Linked DNA regions of Homo sapiens. The main gene of each other region encodes a partner of the protein of the gene in region 3 in a complex. Each region holds a gene or a part of one and is shown on either strand. Other genes may lie near its edges. A codon is read from its position in the direction of its gene.

What was found. The genes of interacting proteins can lie anywhere in the genome.
Region 1: the proteins of NCAPH2 (region 3) and SMC2 are in contact, whole or in part, in a cryo-EM structure (PDB 9F5W), measured with the Homo sapiens proteins. Residues at the interface, in NP_689512.2 of Homo sapiens: Glu46, Phe53, Ile54, Glu55, Leu58, Leu59, Gly62, Ser63, Ala64, Cys65, Val66, Lys69, Tyr73; in NP_001036015.1 of Homo sapiens: Leu93, Thr125, Gln128, Asp129, Cys132, Gly135, Leu136, Asn137, Met173, Tyr174, Lys177, Lys178.
Region 2: the proteins of NCAPH2 (region 3) and SMC4 are in contact, whole or in part, in a cryo-EM structure (PDB 9F5W), measured with the Homo sapiens proteins. Residues at the interface, in NP_689512.2 of Homo sapiens: Arg494, Ile495, Trp498, Glu499, Thr501, Val502, Leu505, Leu506, Gln509, Glu510, His512, Phe547, Cys550, Arg551, Met553, Leu554, Leu557, Gln558, Ala560, Asn561, Tyr563, Val565, Glu566, Ile567, Gln569, Leu573, Glu574, Ala576, Val577, Asp578; in NP_001002800.1 of Homo sapiens: Ile100 (codon at 577), Leu101 (codon at 574), Gly102 (codon at 571), Pro103 (codon at 568), Ile112, Gly113, Pro114, Ser117, Gln1151, Met1152, Leu1155, Phe1227, Lys1228, Ser1231, Ile1232, Phe1235, Tyr1236, Glu1239, Gln1240, Asn1253, Asn1254, Phe1256, Glu1257, Arg1261, Gly1264, Ile1265, Tyr1266, Lys1267, Thr1268, Tyr1269.

Annotation. Positions count from the first base shown.
Region 1 is NC_000009.12:104,139,309-104,141,919, reverse strand, and holds the end of SMC2 (structural maintenance of chromosomes protein 2), read right to left. Parts: coding exon 2,605-2,611; 3' UTR 501-2,604; downstream 1-500. UniProt on the Homo sapiens protein: Central component of the condensin complex, a complex required for conversion of interphase chromatin into mitotic-like condense chromosomes.
Region 2 is NC_000003.12:160,395,413-160,402,649, reverse strand, and holds the start of SMC4 (structural maintenance of chromosomes protein 4), read right to left. Parts: upstream 3,001-7,237; 5' UTR 2,901-3,000; intron 2,092-2,900; exon of another isoform or gene 1,829-2,091; 5' UTR 1,824-1,828; coding exon 1,685-1,823; intron 736-1,684; coding exon 557-735; intron 1-556. UniProt on the Homo sapiens protein: Central component of the condensin complex, a complex required for conversion of interphase chromatin into mitotic-like condense chromosomes.
Region 3 is NC_000022.11:50,503,000-50,512,208, reverse strand, and holds the start of NCAPH2 (condensin-2 complex subunit H2), read right to left. Parts: upstream 3,986-9,209; 5' UTR 3,872-3,985; coding exon 3,764-3,871; intron 1-3,763. Other genes in the region: LMF2 (lipase maturation factor 2), read left to right, coding at 4,534-4,627, 5,174-5,427, 5,543-5,571, 5,707-5,924, 5,996-6,174, 6,394-6,535, 6,672-6,806, 6,875-6,980 and 6 more. UniProt on the Homo sapiens protein: Regulatory subunit of the condensin-2 complex, a complex that seems to provide chromosomes with an additional level of organization and rigidity and in establishing mitotic chromosome architecture.

The DNA of each region.
Region 1 (2,611 bases), on a different chromosome or scaffold from region 3:
GGACCTCTTTCTCCAGGTCCTCGTTTATCCCTTCTGAGACGTCTCCTTCACTTTCTGGAAGCTGTGGTTAGCCCAGATCCCATCTTTTAGTTCTCCAGACCAGAAAGACCCCAGGCTTTCCACTGCAGCCTTAGCTGTCCTACAGCTGCATCATGACTATAGCTGGTACTTAGGTTAAAAACATTAACCTTAGCTTGTGCCTGTCTCTTCCTCCGTATTTTATCTCCCATCCAAAATCTTTCTAGTTTTTCTTCAGTTTCCTGAACTCTCAGGTAGTTGTTTCTAGTATTTTGCTCAGAATCTATATTTATCATCTGTGGGAATGTTGGCCTTTAGATTATGCCACCCTATTGGAAGAGAAAATTTCATGTCTTTGCTTTGCATTTGCTGTGAGCTTACTTGAAATGCCAAAACCGCCACCACCACAATGAATCCTCTCTTCACATGGTTGAGGTTCTTCTTTAAGGTAACATTCACGTTGTACATACTGCTCATACAGGTATTTTTCTTAAATTTATTCTGTACAATAAATACAAATGTTCAAGCTGTCAGTGACGTAGTATATCTTAGGTTCTGGAGACTGACAAGATTTGTCCATGGGCCCTGACACTCCTAACTGTATTATCACCCTGAGCAAGTTTCCTAACTTTTCTGCTCAACTCACTCAATTCCTCGATTACACCATGCTGACAACAACAGTATTTACCTCACTAGGTTACTCTGAGGATTAAATATGACAATACATACAAATGAGAACAGCAGCTAATGTAAAGAAAGAGCTTGTTAAATATTAGTTAACTCATATTACTGCAGATGTGTGAAACAAATGTCCCCAATCCCCTTAATGTCTTCCCTCTAATGAAAAAAAGTTACAACAATTTAATACATGTTTGAGGGTTTTCAAAGATCAAGATTATACAAGACAAAAATCAGGAACGCACACAAGCAAAACATTTTTAGCAGAGAAAAGGAAATGAGTACGTAAGCCAAAATAGTCAAACTCCCAAATTATTTTTAAAACGTTGGCTAAAACAGCAATGAAGTACCACTTAATAACTAACTGTTAAATCAGAAATATTAAAATTAACAGCAAGTACTGACTAATTTGTATACTATGGTATACTTTAATATTGACAGTGTGAATTGGTAACTGTTTTGGCACAGTCTGTAATACATTTGAAAGGAAACAAAAAAACTATATTTGACATTGGACTTTCTGTAACTCAACATTTACAGCATTATTTCCTCTCCCCTCCACAGTGGACAGAACTAATTCCAGATTCAATCCTTTCCAATGTGTCCCATAATATCAATTACTGCATGTTTTCTGACATCTCATATGTATGGAGAATGAAGGGTGGGAAATGTCAAGCCCAGGGCCAGGAAGTACGGCCATATATCAGGGGAAGTATGATAATAACACTAAGGAAATAAGACTAAAAAATCAAGAAGAGATGTGGGGCCAAAATAACACATGGAAGATCAGATTACATCATGTCAGACCTTTCATGATTCAGTTTGGGGTCACTGTTCTAGTGATGACGTACCAAAAACTGTAGACAGTATTCTCATGGTGTTCGCTAGTGTCATCTTTCAAGTTCTAAAGGAATTTCATCCCTTTGAACTGGAAAGCGGAAGACAAATAATCATCCAACTTTTGAGTTATTTTGGTGGAACAGATGGATTGAGTTATTTATATTTATACATATATATATCAGACTCAGGGAAAAATAAATTTGGTTTAGTCTACTGGCACCTACATTCTTGTTTACCAATAGGTTGTTAATGACTGGATTATGAAAAGGCTGACAAAAATCTTGGAAAATATTAACAAACTTCAGATAAATTTGCAGCAGATAGTACCACGCAACACACCTCCTAAGCTTTGATTTAAAAATACTTACACAGCTTAAAAAAACAAAAACATTAAAGTCGTAGAGACCAATTATTAAGCGTATAGGAACATGATATTCATGTATCATTAAAACGTAGAGACCAATTATTAAGCGTATAGGAACATGATATTCATGTATCATTAAAATAAGGATTCTTTCAAGATCTGTTTCCTATCTCAGTCTAAATCAGGGGTCTGGAGTTGTGGCCTTAAAAAACTAGCCTCAAACGGCTCCATGCATGCATAATAGCTTTATATGTGTTCCCTTTGTTGGTCCAGTTACCTGATTTATAATTCTTCCTTACCTGAATGACTTTAGAAAACACATTAATATTGCCTTAGGAATTAAATCAATTAAACACTGATGATCAGCTACATTTATCATGTAATTTAATCTGCTTTTTTGTATATTAGCTTTTACATATAGAATCGGGTATCTCAGGATCCCTAATATATAAAAGACCCGCATAAGAAAAAAACATTTGATGATATGCATAAAATCACAACCACAATAATTGGACCATAATTAGACTAGTTAAGAGATGAGGAATATATGCTCATTTGTAAGCGATAAGTGATTATATAAAGAGAAAACATGGGTTAAGTAACACAGTAACATTAATTTTTGTATATAAACAAATTAGTTATCTCAAGTCCTTAAAAGTTTACATTTAAAAAAACAGGTCAAGATGAAGAAATAACTTTGTAGTTTAAACT
Region 2 (7,237 bases), on a different chromosome or scaffold from region 3:
ACGGAAAAGTTCATAAGGTCATGCTAATACTACTGATTTTAACTGAAACTGTTAGATTTTTTTACTTGCAGTTAAAAACTGCAAGTATTTAAAAGTTCTCATTGCTAATCACAGGCATACGACTTGAGTTTTCTTACATCAAGTTCTCTCTTAAAAGCTTCAACATTCAATAAGAATGCTCCAATTCTAACGCAGACGTTTTAGAAAACTCATTTTATAGTTAAATTATCTAAGGGTTCCATAGAAGGCTTTAAGAAAAAAAAATTATCCAAGGGAAAATACTCTTTCAAACAGAAACACACACCGACTCCATTCAATGGAAAACTTTGTAACTAGAGGTACCAAAGATAACCAGATAAACAAAAGATAATTTCAGTGTTAAAATCATATGAAACGTGTGTGTGTGTGTGTGAGAGAGAGAGACAGAAAGACTATCAGGATAAATAGGGAGTGAATGAATTTTAGGATAGTTACAAAACTGAAACATCTTGTAAAAACGTATTACCTTACAATAGTTATTTAAAAAGTTATAAAATAGTTATTTCCATACAAATACCTTATGGAAAGGTCCCAGAATTTTCTCCCCAGCATAGGATTTGAAGTTCTGGTTTACAATATGAGTTATCATAAGCCGAGGAGCTCCAGCTTCATTGGTCATTGCTGGAGGCGGGGGAGGAGGAATGCTGTTCAAAATCTCTTCTAAACTTCTATTATCAAGTTCCTCACTTGCAGTCTCTAAGTCAGTGAAAGGAAAGGAAAACGAAGGCAAACGGCGGGGGAAAAGCCTACATTAGTGCAATTAGTTCGGAGAACTAATGACTGCCCATCTTTAAAGTAGGGGATGGAGGGATGTTATTTATGAAACTTAGGAGTCTATATTTTCCACTTAAATATGTTATTATCTTAAACTCACGGGGGTGACTAAACCTTCAGCTTGGTTTTACTAAAAAAGAAATTCTTGAAAGAAATGCCACCGGTCACAAAATTCTATACACCTATACCTCTTAAGAGTCAAAACACTACATCATAGAGCAAATCTGGGAAAACCGTAACAAGCTATTTCCTGCTGCCTATCCTAAACAGGAGGTTAAATCCTAAGGCTCTAGATGCAATTCTCCGTACCGCTGAGCACCTGGAACCTTCATTTTGGAAACTCATGAACTTCAGCGACACTGCCACGAGGGTTTAATAATGTCACCCAACTCCTGGACTCACAAAAGCTACAGTGGCTTCAAATAAATTATCGTCTTCTCTTTAACGGCAATCTAACACCACGGAGGTGAGGTTAGGGTCAAAAAACTTTTCATCATGCTCACATAGTCATATTGATTGTCTCTGGGAAAAAAGTCCACTTGCTCTCTTGATTGACCGTCTCGATTTTAGCGGGAATACAATAAAGATATTGAATTTTTGTTTGTGACCTGTACCATTCCACAGGTCACAAACAAAAATTCACAACTGAACCCGTTTGCTCGCCCCCATCCCTTCCAGCGCCGTTACACCAAAATTGCACGGGAATCCTATCTCAAAGTTGCCAAATGGCTTTCCTGAGCCTCTACCGGACCGACACCGGACCTTCAGATGTCAACTCCGCGCTCAACAACCCCAGCCAGCCTCGGGCTGGGCGCGTTTGCCTGCCAGTCCCACAGCGCGCGTTCCCGCCGAGTCGCGGCGGGTCACTCACCTGCGGCGGTGGCTGGGCTCTCCGTGCGGCCGGACGGCGGCTCAGGCTCCGCGTCGCTGCTGGCGCCGTCAGGGGACGGCGGCGGCGGCCCTTCCTCTCTGCGCCGGGCAGTGGAGGGCTGGGTGCCTTTACGGGGCATGGTCGCTGGGGCCGGGGGACAGCCGGGAGCAAGTCAGCCCGCGGGCCGCTACACCGCGCCCGCCCCACCCGGGGAAATCTCGGTCCACCGGCTTCCGAGAGCCCCGCTTAACACTCCGCTTAGAGGCAGCGGGACTTCGGGAAGGGAGCCATCGAAAGACACGAGTGGCAAGAAGGCAGGACTGGTTTCTTAACAAGACCTATGTAAGTGGGAAAATCTAGACGTGCCTGAGGATCAATCAACGATTGAGCAACTGCTTAGTTTGTTGTTGTTGTTTTTAAGGCTCTCCACCCGTCCGCCCATAGTATAAGCGTATAATATTCGCTAACGCATTTCTAATTAAGGAACTCCCATACGCCAGCATTTCCGGACATTCCCACGCTTTCGGGGCCAGGGATGCAAGCGCGCACCGACGTGGAGAAACGAGTTCGTGTCCGGGTCAGGATCCCGTGGCTAGCAACTCTCTCCAGAGCGGTGAAGACTAACTGGCGACTCGCCGCCCGCTTTCGTCTGCCCGCCCTTTAGCTCCTGGCGCCGTTGACGGCCCGGGGCATAACGAAGTCTCCCTCCTCTCAGCGGTCGGACCGCGAAGGGCGAAGGCTGGGACTAACCACTAGCAACTTCAAGTCGGACGCTGGCAGCGCTTGCTAATTTTGGAGTGGCAAGAGTTTGTCTCTCCAGCTCCCCAGGCGGAGTCCCGTTGGACAGTAAACCATGAAAGGTCACCAGCGAAGGCTGAGACCCGGTGACTAGTCCGTTGGCAGAAGGAAGAGGGGTAGGGGGAGACGCCCTTTTCCAGATAGAGACTAGGATTTTTTAAAGAAAAGATCTGCGAGGCTCAGGGCCTCCCCGAGACATTTGAGTAGCTTGGAAAAGTGGCGCCCGGGAGCTGCGCGCGGGAGCCCGGGCCGCCGGGGAGCGGCCGAGGGGGGAGGGGTGACAGCAAGAGAAATCTCCCAGCGGCAGCTTCAAGCCCGGACTTCGCCGCTCGGGCTCAAGGCCTCTATTTTCCAGGCGCTCGCGGACAAGGCAGGAAGTAAGAGCGTGACAACCTGACCAGGAAGAGAAGTACTTTACCTGCAGGACAGTCCACTCAGACCAAGGCTGGAGACGGTTGTGTAGTACCCACCTCCCCGCTCCTACCGGTGTTTCGGCTCCGGGTCCTTCACTCGAAAATGGCGCCTAAAATACAAACTCGAACGGAAATTCGTTACAAATGCGCGCAATGATTTCTGGGATCCACTAATTTGAAAAAAAGTGCGGCGATTATCACCGCCATCTTATTGTCGCTCCTGCGCATGCGCGAACTCCTGGCGGGACCTACGCGGTAGAAGTTTCTACTAAGTGAAAAGGAAGAGCGAGGGATTCTTTTCTCTGTGGTCTACAGCAGCAGCACTATTATTAAAAATATTTGGAAAGACAACCTGGCAAGTTTTGAAAAAGATTTTTTTAAAAACGGTAGGGTTCCGCTCACAGTGGGAGGCGGGGCTCAGTGGTCCAGAAACGCCTCTTCAGAAGAGGGCGGGCTCGCCGAGAGGCGGGGTCTCGGGCCCACTCGGATGACGTGCCGCGTAGAAGTATCGCGGGAAGAGGAAGGGAGCGTAACTCTTAGAAGTCACTATGGTGACGGGGAGGTACCAGGTATTTGAGAGCAATCGCCACCGCTTTCCTGGAACTTGAGGTAAATCCCTTCACCTCTGGACCTGGTGAGAAAAGGGTTTGGAAGTTGTAGCCATCACTGGATCCCATCTTTCCTGTTTTGAAGCTGTGTGCTTCGTGGAGCATCATTTTCTGTCTCCCTGGCGGCAGCGGGGCTCCGGGTGTAGCTTTTGGGATGCGAAGGAGGAAGCCCTAAATTTTAAGGGAGTAGAGAGACAACTGGAAGACCTGGATTCGTGATAGCTTAGTCGACATGTGAATAGCGCAATAATGATTTTCGAGATCATTGGTGTTACTAGTGAAAGGTTTAGGACTTTTAAAATAATTTGACTAAAAGGCTCTTTAGTGGAAAAAACGACTCGCCAGTGTTATGGTTATTTTTATGAGGAAATTATCGATCAGCAAATATTCCCTAAGTAGTGTTTGTATACATTGCCCTGGGTAAGGCATAATTAGAATTAGTAAGCAAGTTTGGCGATTCCTGTTCCCCGAGAACTTAGTTTTAGTGGGTTTTTAACCTGAGGTCTGTGGATCTGGTGGTAGGTGATTGGGCTTCAGAGTTCATAACTCGCCTGACATTGTATACATAATTCTATGTGCATTTTTCTGGGAAGTTAGTTTTCCTACAACTTTATAATCAGAATCTCATACTTGCTCCTAATTCCCTATATTGTTAAAGAGCCACTGGCTCATTTGACTATCTCCAGTATTCATGCAACAACTCTTAAGTACTTGACATTGAGAACTACTAGCCTCCTTTTTTTTTCTTTAACTTTTGCTTACTTAGGGTCTGGCATGTTAAATCACCATTAAATCTCCCTTTTGAATGAATTTACATGATCACTCTAAATACATTATGGTTCTTCCCTGGAAGAGCATGAAGTCAGGTTCAGTGATTCTCAAAAAGGTGTGGAGAGCCACCCCCCTCCCAACCAATTGTAAGAATTTGGTGAGGTTGGGAGACTGGTGTGTATTGCATAAGCGTAGACTCAATATCGTGATATATCTTTATGTTTGAAGTTAAAAACGAATTGTTGTTTTCATAAAACAAGCTACAGAAAATAAACCTTAATGAAAAAAAGTTTTTTGGCTGGTAAGCATACCAAGAAGATATAAGGATTATCTTTGAGGGCTTCTGGAATTTTTGCATTTCCAAAGGTTGTAAAACACTACAAAACCTGAGTTGGGGAGGTATCAACTATGCGGATCACCTGAGGTTGGGAGTTCGAGACCAGCCTGACCAACATGGACAAACCCCGTCTCTACTAAAAATAAAAAATTAGCAGGGCATGGTGGCGCATGCCTGTAATCCCAGCTACTAGGGAGGCTGAGACAGGAGAATCTCTTGAACCCGGGAGGCGGAGGTTGCGGTGAGCCGAGATAGTGCCGTTGCACTACAGCCTGGGCAACAAGAGCGAAACTGCGTCTCAAAAAAAAAAAAAAAAAAAAAAGTATAGACCAAATTGAGTGGTGTATTTGGGGCAACAGAGCACAATGTAGTGGAAAGATGTAATATAGAAAACAGAATCCCAAGTTCCATCATTTTTTAGGTATATGCTTGACAGTTTCCTCAGTTTGTCAATCTTGAGAGTATTTATTTATGAAACTAGCATATAATACCTGTCTCATCATACTGTTTATGATTGTTCATCTAGCACATGCTCCATAAGGATTTGATTTTGCTGTGTTTATGACATTGAACTTATCAAAGTATGCTAAGGATGAATAATGGGATATCAAGTTAGAGGAAGGGTAGCTCCTGAAGGATCTTGAAAACCAAGTCAAGGATGTTAGATATGATATGGAGGAAACAGCTTTTAGAACAATTCTGAGCCAAGGAATGACTTGGTAAATATAGGAAGAATAATTAACAGTAGTTATGTGGGGTATGTTAAAGGGGAAAGAAACTGAGATCAGTCTAGGCTTTAGTTAAGATTGTTACTATATAACAGTAAGTGAGAAGTGCCTAAGTAGGATGGAAAAAAATCTGGAGTCATTTTGGGGTAAAAATCTATAGCTTTTGTAGATTGTGATGGTTCAGAGTATAAACCCTTGAAGTCAGTCATATACTATTCTTTGTGTATCCTTGAATTAGTGATAAGGTATAGGAAGAACGATAAGTCACAGAAAATATAGTTTTGATAAATCAACTGACTGATGGCCTTAAATTTAATTGAACCTAACCATTGCCCACTCAGAAAACTATTTTGAAAAGGGGCATAAACCAGGTTGTATAATGAGAAAACATAACAAACAGCTACAGAGTAGACTTAAATCTGGAGATTTATATATACCACAAAAATAAGACATTCAGAATAAGTATAAATTTTGAGAAGATATTAGAGTCACAAGAAATAAAGACTTTTGGTTGATTGTTGCCAATATTTTGGACATGTCTCATGAAATTAACAGAGTTTAATTACAAAGAGAAGCTGGCCTACCTGGAAAAGACTGGGTTACAGTCATTTTGGAAAGTATTGCTATAACTGGGTCTTATCTTCCTAGTCTAAAATGATCTGTCAGTAATCTCTATCTGCAATTTCAGGCAGTCTTAGAAGGAAAACCTCACTTTTTACATTAGAAAAAAATTATACCCCACAGGAAGAAATAAGTTCAAAGAGAAAAATTGGAATTAGAATTAAAATCTTCATTTTCAGTTCTTTAAGTGCAAGGTTTTTTCATCATTTTAACAATATGTGTTTTGTTTGCCTTCTAATGTCATAACATTTCAGAAAGGCTGAAATTAGATTTCTGAGTAAATATTTTAAAAGATTAAATTTGTAATTGTAAATATTTAGATAAATTAGATATTAACTAATATGAATTTATGTAAGTATTGTATAAATATTTAGAGAATATTGTTCAAGATTAATAAATTAGATATAGACACAGTGCAGATAGAAGTGAATATTCCTCTTGATAATATAAGCACCTTGGTATATTAATGTTACCGAAACACACATAACTTATCACCGAAAACCCAGGAAGCTAGAAGGCAGAACAGCTCTTTTTTGGAAATATCATTTTGAAAGATAAGTATGTTTTTATTCCGTAGGTTGGAATTCTGGAAAGATATATTCAACAAGCAGTAGAGGTAGAGAGTATGGCTTAAGAGAGAAAATAAAATGGGTAGTGCTGTAAGAATAACTGGATCACTAAAAATAGGTTAGGTTTTTAAGATTGTAAGTGGAGAGAAGCTAGCACCAGACCAAGGATATTAAGGAAATGTTCATTTTTAGAATGTAAGAAGAAGAAATAATTACAGTAATATCTAGGATAGGAGCCTGTTGATTACAAGTGACAGAAAACCCAATCCAAATTGTCTTGAGAAAAAACAAATATTGTCTCCTGGAACTAAAAAGTCAGGTGACTATAACTGGATTAAGGGTTCAGACAAAGACACAAGGATTTGGTTTCTTTCCTTGCTTTGAACTCCATTGTGTTGGCAGTATTTTCAGGTTCCGTATGATGGCCTCTAGCACCTTTTGGCTCTCCCCTTGCTGTGGTAAGATAGCTACAGCAACTCCAGCCTCATATCTTCTAAAATTAAAATCCAAGGGGGAATGAGAGTTTCTCTTCCCCAGCATTGATTTGAATAAAAGTCCTGGGCCACCTGTGAAACAGTCTGTGCAAAGGGAATGGAATGCTCTAATTGGCTTAAGTCTGGGCCTCATGCCACATGGGCTAACAGTGAGGAAGTGGTTGTTGCAAAGAGAAATTCTTTTTAGGTGGGAAAAGAGTGACTATATATATGC
Region 3 (9,209 bases):
ATGTGCCAGGCACTCTACTAAGCAGACAAAAGAGGGCATAAGTATGGTCCCTGCCCTGGCAGAATTCACATTCTAGGGTGGAGACAGGCCACAAACAGGTAAATGAGTTGAAGAATGGCTTGTGGCCAGTCGCAGTGGCTCACACCTGCAATCCCAGCACTTTCAAAGGATGAGGTGGGCGGATCACGAGGTCAAGAGTTCAAGACCAGCCTGGCCAACATGGTGAAACCCCATCTCTACTAAAAATACAAAAATTAGCTGGGGCCAGGCACGGTGGCTCACACCTGTAATCCCAGCATTTTGGGAGGCCGAGGCGGGTGGATCACGAGGTCAGGAGACCAAGACCATCCTGGCTAACATGGTGAAACCCTGTCTCTACTGAAAAATACAAAAAAATTAGCCAGGCGTGGTGGCGGGCGCCTGTAATCCCAGCTACTGAGGAGGCTGAAGTAGGAGAATGGCGCGAACCCAGGAGATGGAGCTTGCAGTGAGCCGAGATTGTGCCACTGCACTCCAACTTGGGCCACAGGGCAAGACTCTGTCTCAAGAAAAAAAAAAAAATTAGCCAGGCGTGGTGGCAGGCGCCTGTAATCCCGGCTACTCAAGAGGCTGAGGCAGGATCGGACGCGGTGGCTCAGGCCTGTAATCCCAGCACTTTGGGAGGCCGAGGCGGGTGGATCATGAGGTCAGGAGATCGAGACCATCCTGGCTAACACGGTGAAACCCCGTCTCTACTAAAAAAATACAAAAAATTAGCCGGGCGTGGTGGCGGGTGCCAGTAGTCCCAGCTACTCGGGAGGCTGAGGCAGGAGAATGGTGTGAACCCAGGAGGTGGAGCTTGCAGTGAGCCGAGATTGCACCACTGCACTCCAGCCTGGGCGACAGAGTGAGACTCCGTCTCAAAAAAAAAAAAAAAAAAAAAAGAGGCTGAGGCAGGAGAACTGCTTGAACCCAGAAGGTGGAGGCTGCAGCAAGCTGAGATTGCACCACTGCACTCCAGCCTGGGTGACAGAGTGAGACTCCATCTCAAAAAAAAAACATATAAATAAATAAAATTTTTTTTGGCTGGGCGCGGTGGCTCATGCCTGTAATCCCAGCACTTTGGGACACCGACACGGGCGGATCACCAGGTCAGGAGATCGAGACCATCCTGGCTAACACGGTAAAACCCCGTCTCTACTAAAAATACAAAACATTAGCCGGGTGTGGTGGCAGGTGCCTGTAGTCCCAGCTACTCGGGAAGCTGAGGCAGGAAAATGGCGTGAACCCAGAAGGCAGAGCTTGCAGTGAGCTGAGATCATGCCACTGCACTCCAGCCTGGGCGACAGAGTAAGACTCCATCTCAAAAAAAAAAAAAATTTAAATGGTTTATGATAAACATTCTAAAGTGTGTAAGGTGCTGAGATGGAGAGGACTATTTTAGATAGGGTGGTCAGCTGACATTTACACTAAGACCTTAAGAATGAAAAGGACTCAGTCAGCCAGGCGTGGTGGCTCACGTCTGTAATCCCAGCACTTTGGAAAGAGGCAGAGCTGGCTGGATCACCTGAGGTCAGGAGTTTGAGACCAGCCTGGCCAATGTGGCGAAACCCATCTCTACTAAAAATACAAAAATTAACTGGACGTGGTGGTGCATGCCTGTAATCCCAGCTACTCGGGAGGCCAAGGCAGGAGAATTGCTTGAACCTGGGAGTCGGAGGTTGCAGTGAGCCAAGATTCTGCCATTGTACTCCAGCCCGGGCAACAGAGCAAGACTCCATCTCAAAAAAAGAAAAGAAAACAAACTCAGTCATTGAAAGAATATTCCCAGCCAGGTGTGGTGGTGCACAGCTATAGTCCCAGCTACCTGAGAAGCTGAGGCAGGAGGACTGCTTGAGCACAGCAGTTTGAGACCAGCCTGGGCAACACAGTAAGATCCTCCTCTCTGATTTTTTTTTTCTCCTTTTCCTTGCCATATGAAGTCCCTCTTTATTTAAAAACAAAAAAGAGGCCGGGCGCGGTGGCTCACGCCTGTAATCCCAGCACTTTGGGAGGCCAAGGCAGGCGGATCACGAGGTCAGGAGATCGAGACCATCCTGGCTAACACGGTGAAACCCTGTCTCTACTAAAATACAAAAAAATTAGTTGGGCGTGGAGGCGGGCGCCTGTAGTCCCAGCTACTGCAGAGGCTGAGGCAGAATGATGTGAACCCAGGAGGCGGAGCTTGCAGTGAGCTCAGATCGCGCCACTGCACTTCCGTCTCAGAGTGAGACTCCGTCTCAAAATATATAAATAAATAAATAAAAACAAAAAAGAAGATTCCCAAGTGGGGGCAGAAAGCATGAAGATCTTCCACCAAGAAAAAGCTTGGAGGGGCCATAGGTTGACTGGTTCAAAAGAACAAGATACAAAACAGCCCAAAATGAGGCTAAAATGGAGAGCAGAGCCAGGTTCAGAGAAGGAAATTTGGGTTTTATTCTGGGCATAATGGAAAGCCACTGAGGGGTTGATTTTAGGCAGAAAACAGTGCTGTGGCCAGATTTTAATTTTTAAGAGTCACACTTGCTGCTGGTTGGAGCACGAATTGGACGGGACAAAAACAGGGATAAGGGAACCCAAATAGGAAGGTTTTACACAAATCCAGGCCAGAGACAATGGTGGCCTAGACCAAATAAAATGGACAACAGATGAATTCAAGTGATATTCCGGTGGTATAACTGATGGAATTCATGGATGAACTGAGTGTTAAGCATGGGGCTTCACTATAGCCACATTTAGCTTTTGCTTTTGGTTGAACAGCGGTGTCATTTTCCGAGATGGGAAAAGCTGGGGTTTAAGCAGAAAAATGAAGAGTTCCACTTTAAATATGTTAAATGAGATGTTTGCGTGACACCCACTAGATGTCAAGAGAGCAGCTGGATATGTAAAGTAGATTTGGAGGAAAGATCTAGGATGGAGCTGCAGATCTGGTAGTTGTCCTAATACAGGCAATATTTAAAATCATAGAAATAAATGACACTTCAGGGTAAATGCATCAGAAGATGACCTAGGCCCCATCCTGAGGAACTCAACACTTAGAGACTGGATAGAAAAGAAAAATCAGGCAATGAAATAGGGAAAAAAAATCCTACCACCATGTTTCAAAAAGAAAGGAGTGGCCAGTCCAACAAATGCTGACTTATGTCCCTTGGATTTGGTAGAATGGAGATCACTGCTGATCAAGACAAGAAACATTTAAGTGTCGTGGACGCCAGACTGAGCTGGGCTGAGGAGTAAAAATGAAGCGCAAATATGGAGCAGACAGCTTAACACAGGTCTAGACAGGGCTGTCAAACATGGAAGAAACACTAATCGCTAACAGGATAGAGCATGGCAATAGCTTGAAATTGGTTTGAAAATCCAAGATAAAAAATTCCTCTGACATCGTGATCCAGACCTCTCAAACACACAAGCATGCTCGCAATAACTGCAATAAAAGCAATAATGCTTTCTAGTCTATTCCACTACGTTAGAGAAACGGCTGGTCACCACCCACTCAATCATTCACGGCTCGCTGACGGGTAGAAACCTGCAATGACAGGTCCACGCTAATCCAACAAGGGATGATTTGGGGAGGCAGAGATGGAGTTTGAAAAGAAGCAGGGAGCCCGAGGACCTGCGCGGCCAGAGCGCCAGATAGCCATAGGCGTGGAGACGGTGGGGCGCCCACAGCCCCGGGCCCGGAGCCCCCGCCCCGCAGCCCCACCCGCCGGCCCACCCCGCGTCACTCCCCCGCCGCCCTTACCTCCTCCAGATACTCGCCCAGCTGGGCCGCCACGTCCACCTCCCAGTTCTTGGTGAGGTCGCGGATGGGCTGCAAGAGGTGGGCGAAGCGCGCCTCCACGTCCTCCATGTCCGGGAGGGAACGGGCGGCAAAGGGACCGCAGGGCTGCCTTCCGAGGGGTACGGCGTCCTCAGCCCGCCACTAGTTCTGGCGCCATTTTGCTGTTCCCGCCCAGGAAAATGCGTAGGCGCGGCGTCGCGCGCATGTCTATGACGTAACGTGGGCAAAAGCCAGAGAGGCGAACCCCGGCGCCGCGCAGCGGGAGCTCACCGGAAGAGTCGCGGGGCGGGGTCGAAGCCTCCGGGAGGGGGGGGTGGGCGGAGCTTTGGGCTGCCACCAGTTTGGACGGGAGGGCTTTTGGGGCCGCCGTGGGTCGGGCGGGGCGGGGTGGGGCGGGGCCTGGAGCTGCCGCGGGCGAGCGGGCCGAGGAGGCGGGGCTTGGGGGCTGCCACGGGTTGGGGGGGCGGGGCGGTGAGGAGGCGGGGCCTGGGGCAGCCGCGGGCGGGCGGACGGGCCGAGGAGGCGGGGCTTGGGGCTGCCACGGGTTGGGCGGGCGGGGCGGTGAGGAGGCGGGGCCTGGGACTGCCGCGGGCGGGCGGGCGGGCCGAGGAGGCGGGGCTTGGGGCTGCCACGGATTGGGCGGGCGGGGCGGTGAGGAGGCGGGGCCTGGGGCTGCCGCGGGCGGGCGGACGCGGAGGGCGGGCCCTGCTCTAGCGGGCCGCGTAGCGGACATGGCGGGCTCCCGGCTCCCGCGGCAGCTCTTCCTCCAGGGCGTGGCGGCCGTCTTCATGTTTGCTTTCGCTTCCCTCTACACGCAAATCCCAGGTGAAGGCACCCAGGGTGGGACACCCCCAGCCTCGGCGCGGGACCCTATGTCCTCTTTTCTCTGTGCCCGGCACTCACGCAGTCCGGGGTTGGGAGTGAGGGCCAGGCCTTGGCGTGGGGTAGGGGGCGGCGGTTCGTGTCCTGCAGGCCGCTGTGGGGGTAGGAAGGTGTGCGGTGATCCATTTCCCGTAAGGCTCTGGACTCTGACCTGGGGTGGGGGACAGAACTCTGAGAGAGGTGGGAGAGAGGCTTCCTCCCAGACCTGGTGGGACAGGTAGGAGATCGGGCTGAGACCTGGAAGAGGGCAGTGGGCTCTGCTGGGTGGGAGGCCCTGACTCAGGTAGTTGAGCAGGCCTCTAGCCCTGGGACGGGGTTTTGACAGGTCCCGACCTGGGGGACGGGCTCTGGAGGGACTGCAGACTCTGACCTAGGGATGGAGGTATCCGCATGCTCTGACCTAGGCTGGGGGATCTGCAGGCCCTGACTCAGAGGTAGTCTAGTCTGCAAGGGCTGTCCAGGGCCTGGCCATGACATGCCCTCCCACAGGCCTGTATGGCCCCGAGGGCATCCTACCTGCAAGGAGGACGCTGCGGCCTCAGGGCAAGGGGCGCTGGCAGCAGCTGTGGGAGACCCCGACGCTGCTGTGGGAAGCGCCGAGACTGGGGCTGGACACGGCCCAGGGCCTGGAGCTGCTGAGCCTGCTGGGTGCACTAGTGGCCCTGGGAGCCCTGCTGCTGAGCCCACTGCGCCACCCTGTCATCTACTTGCTGCTTTGGGCCGCCTACCTGTCAGCCTGCCAGGCAAGTGGGACCTGTGACCAGCTCACTCTATCTCCAACCCCCACCACCCACCCCTGCCTCTACCTTACCTGAGTCCACAGACACACCCGCTCCCTGACAGCCCCTCTCTCCGCAGGTGGGCCAGGTGTTCCTTTATTTCCAGTGGTGAGTGACGGCTGGGCCTGGGGCTGTGGGAGGCTGGGTAGGGGGTGGGGGAGGGCTCTGCCCTTCCTGGGAGGACTTTCCGAGGGAAGCAGCTGTGTGGGGAGGGGCTCTTGGTGCTATTTGCTCTCCCCATAGGGACTCCCTGCTGCTAGAGACTGGCTTCCTGGCCGTGCTGGTGGCCCCGCTGAGGCCAGCCTCCCACCGCAAGGAGGCCCCCCAGGGCAGGCAGGCAGGGGCCCTGCCCCACGAAGACCTCCCCTTCTGGCTGGTGCGATGGCTGCTGTTCCGCCTCATGTTCGCCTCAGGCGTGGTCAAGCTGACCAGCCGCTGCCCTGCGTGGTGGGGGCTCACTGGTGAGGGGCCCGGTCTGGACCTGGGGTAGTCTGGGGGCTCGGCCAGCCCTGACTCCTGCCCTCGCCTGCAGCCCTCACCTACCACTACGAGACCCAGTGCCTGCCCACGCCCGCCGCCTGGTTCGCACACCACCTGCCGGTCTGGCTGCACAAGCTCAGCGTGGTGGCCACCTTCCTAATTGAGATCGCTGTGCCGCCCCTGTTCTTCGCCCCCATTCGACGCCTGCGCTTGGCTGCTTTCTACTCGCAGGTGGGTGAGGGCCGCAGCTGTCAGAGAGAGGCAGACAGGGCTCGGCCTTCAGCGCTGCTCAGCGTGCCCTGTTGGGGACAGCGTGGCTCCCGGGGACAGCTGGCAACCGCTGTTGGGAAGGCCTTGTAGCAGAGGGATGCACCCTGCAGGGTGGAGGTGGGTGCCTGCCACGGGGCCAGGCGTCAGTCTCCGGGAGCACTGAGAGCGGGCCGCCCCCAGGTGCTGCTGCAGGTCCTGATTATCATCACCGGCAACTACAACTTCTTCAACCTGATGACGCTGGTGCTTACCACTGCGCTGCTGGACGACCAGCACCTGGCTGCTGAGCCTGGCCACGGCAGCCGCAAGAAGACGGCCACCTGTGCGTGTCACTTGTCCAGCCCCCTGCCCTCCCAGGGGTTCTCCCCTCCAACACCCCCACAGGACTCCCACTCTAGCTGCACCCCAGCCCCCTGGCTGGGGACCCTCTGCTGACCCATGACTGTCCTGCCCCACAGCCTGGCCCAAGGCCCTGCTGGCCACCCTGTCGCTGCTGCTGGAACTAGCCGTCTACGGGCTTCTGGCCTATGGCACTGTGCACTACTTTGGCCTGGAGGTTGACTGGCAGCAGCGCACCATCCACTCCAGAACCAGTGAGTGCCGACCTGGGGGGGCCAGAGGGCAGGGGCGGACCAGTCCTCACACCCCCCTCCTCCACCAGCTTTCACCTTCCACCAGTTTTCTCAGTGGCTGAAGACACTGACGCTGCCCACTGTGTGGCTGGGTGTGGCCTCCCTGGTCTGGGAGCTGCTGAGTGCCCTGTGGAGGTACATGGCCCAGGAAGCAGGGAGGGGGCACAGGTGTGCAGGGCCGGCCTGACGACCTTGGGTCCTTGCCCACAGGTGGACCCAGGTGCGGGGCTGGCTACGGAAGCTCAGTGCTGTAGTCCAACTGTCCCTTGTGGGCACTGCGACCGTGGCCTTGTTCCTGATTAGCCTGGTGGGTAGCGCTGCAGGGCTGGGGGATGGGCTGGGGGCAGGGCAGCCCTGAGAACCTCCCACCTGTCTCCAGGTGCCGTACTCCTACGTGGAGCCCGGGACCCACGGGCGCCTCTGGACCGGGGCCCACCGCCTGTTTGGTGCCGTGGAGCACCTACAGCTGGCCAACTCCTACGGCCTCTTCCGCCGCATGACTGGGCTTGGTGGACGGCCTGAGGTGGTGCTGGAGGGCAGTTACGACGGCCACCACTGGACGGTGAGCCCTCCCAGGGCGGGCAGGGTGGTGGGGCCCAGGTCAGCGGGCCCAGCTGACCTCGGCCTGCCTGGCAGGAGATCGAGTTCATGTACAAGCCTGGGAACCTGAGCCGGCCGCCCCCGGTTGTGGTGCCCCACCAGCCACGCCTGGACTGGCAGATGTGGTTTGCAGCCCTGGGCCCACACACGCACAGCCCGTGGTTCACAAGCCTGGTCTTGCGCCTGCTGCAGGGCAAGGAGCCAGGTGCGGAGCGGGCTTGGGGGGTGTGGAGTGGGCTGGGGTGGAGCGGGGTGGGGAGGGGAGGGGCAGGGCGGGTACTGTGGGGGCCACGCTGATGCCTCTCGCTGCAGTGATCCGCCTTGTCCAGAGCCAAGTGGCCAGGTATCCCTTCCACAAGCAGCCGCCCACCTACGTCCGAGCCCAGCGCTACAAGTACTGGTTCTCCCAGCCTGGGGAGCAGGGGTAAGGCTGGGCACCGGGTGGGGTGTGGAGCCCGGGGTGCAGGGGTAAGGCCGGGCACCGGGGGGTGTGGAGCCCGGGGTGCAGGGGTAAGGCCGGGCACCGGGGGGGGGTGTGGAGCCCGGGGTGCAGGGGTAAGGCCGGGCACTGGGGGGGGTGTGGAGCCCGGGGTGCAGGGGTAAGGCCGGGCACCGGGGTGGGGTGTGGAGCCTGGGGTGCAGGGGTAAGGCCGGGCACTGGGGGGGGTGTGGAGCCCGGGGTGCAGGGGTAAGGCCGGGCACCGGGTGGGGTGTGGAGCCCGGGGTGCAGGGGTAAGGCCGGGCACCAGGGGGGGATGTGGAGCGTGAGGAGCTGAGGAGCAGGGGTAAGGCTGGGCACTGGCGATGGGGTATGGAGCCCGGGGTGCCTCCAGCTTCTGAACATCGGGTCCTGCTGCAGCCAGTGGTGGCGGCGCCAGTGGGTGGAGGAGTTCTTCCCATCCGTGTCCCTGGGGGACCCCACGCTGGAGACGCTGCTCAGGCAGTTTGGACTACAGGTAAGGGGGTGTCAGCCAGGCTGGGGGAGGTGGCAGGGGTGACCCCAGCCTCCCGGGGTAAACCCAGTAAGCACTTCCCCAACCTCCCTCCCTCCCTCCCTCCCACAGGAGAAAAGCCCACCTCGCACCCGCAGCGCCAACAGCACCCTGGCCCAGGCCCTCCACTGGACTCGCTCTCAGCTGTCTCCCCTGGAGGCCCCCGCCCTGCTCTGGGGGCTCCTCATGGCCGTGGGGGCTGTCAGATTTGTGCAAGCCCTGCTAGCACCCTGTTCTCTCCGGTCCTCCCCGCTGGCACCAGTCAGCGGGGAGAAGCGCAGGCCAGCCTCCCAGAAAGACTCCGGAGCTGCCTCCGAACAGGCCACCGCAGCCCCCAACCCCTGCTCCAGTAGTTCGAGGACCACCCGGCGAAAGAAGTAGCTGTGTTCTCCCAGCTGCACGTCCTGAGAGGGCCAGGTCGCCGGGAGTGCTCTGGCCTCCGGCAGGACAGGACCCAGCCACTGTGCCTTAGCTGACCCTGCAGGGCCAGGCACAGGTTGGGGGGCTGCCCCTGGGGTTTGCAGGGTGCTGCATTGAGGGCTCCAGGCCCCACCCCCACGCCAGCCATGCCCCTCCCCAGGACTCCCACTATTGCCTCTGTGATTGGCCCAGGAGGAAAACACGACCAAGCTCAAGACCCTTCCCCTGCCCTGGGCTGTGGGGGTCTGAGTCTAGAGCCCCCAACCCTAGGCCCCGTGCCAGAGGGGAAGAGGCTGACTCCCAGGGGAAGAGGGGAAGCACTGTCATCTTCCACGTCATCTTCACACCAGCC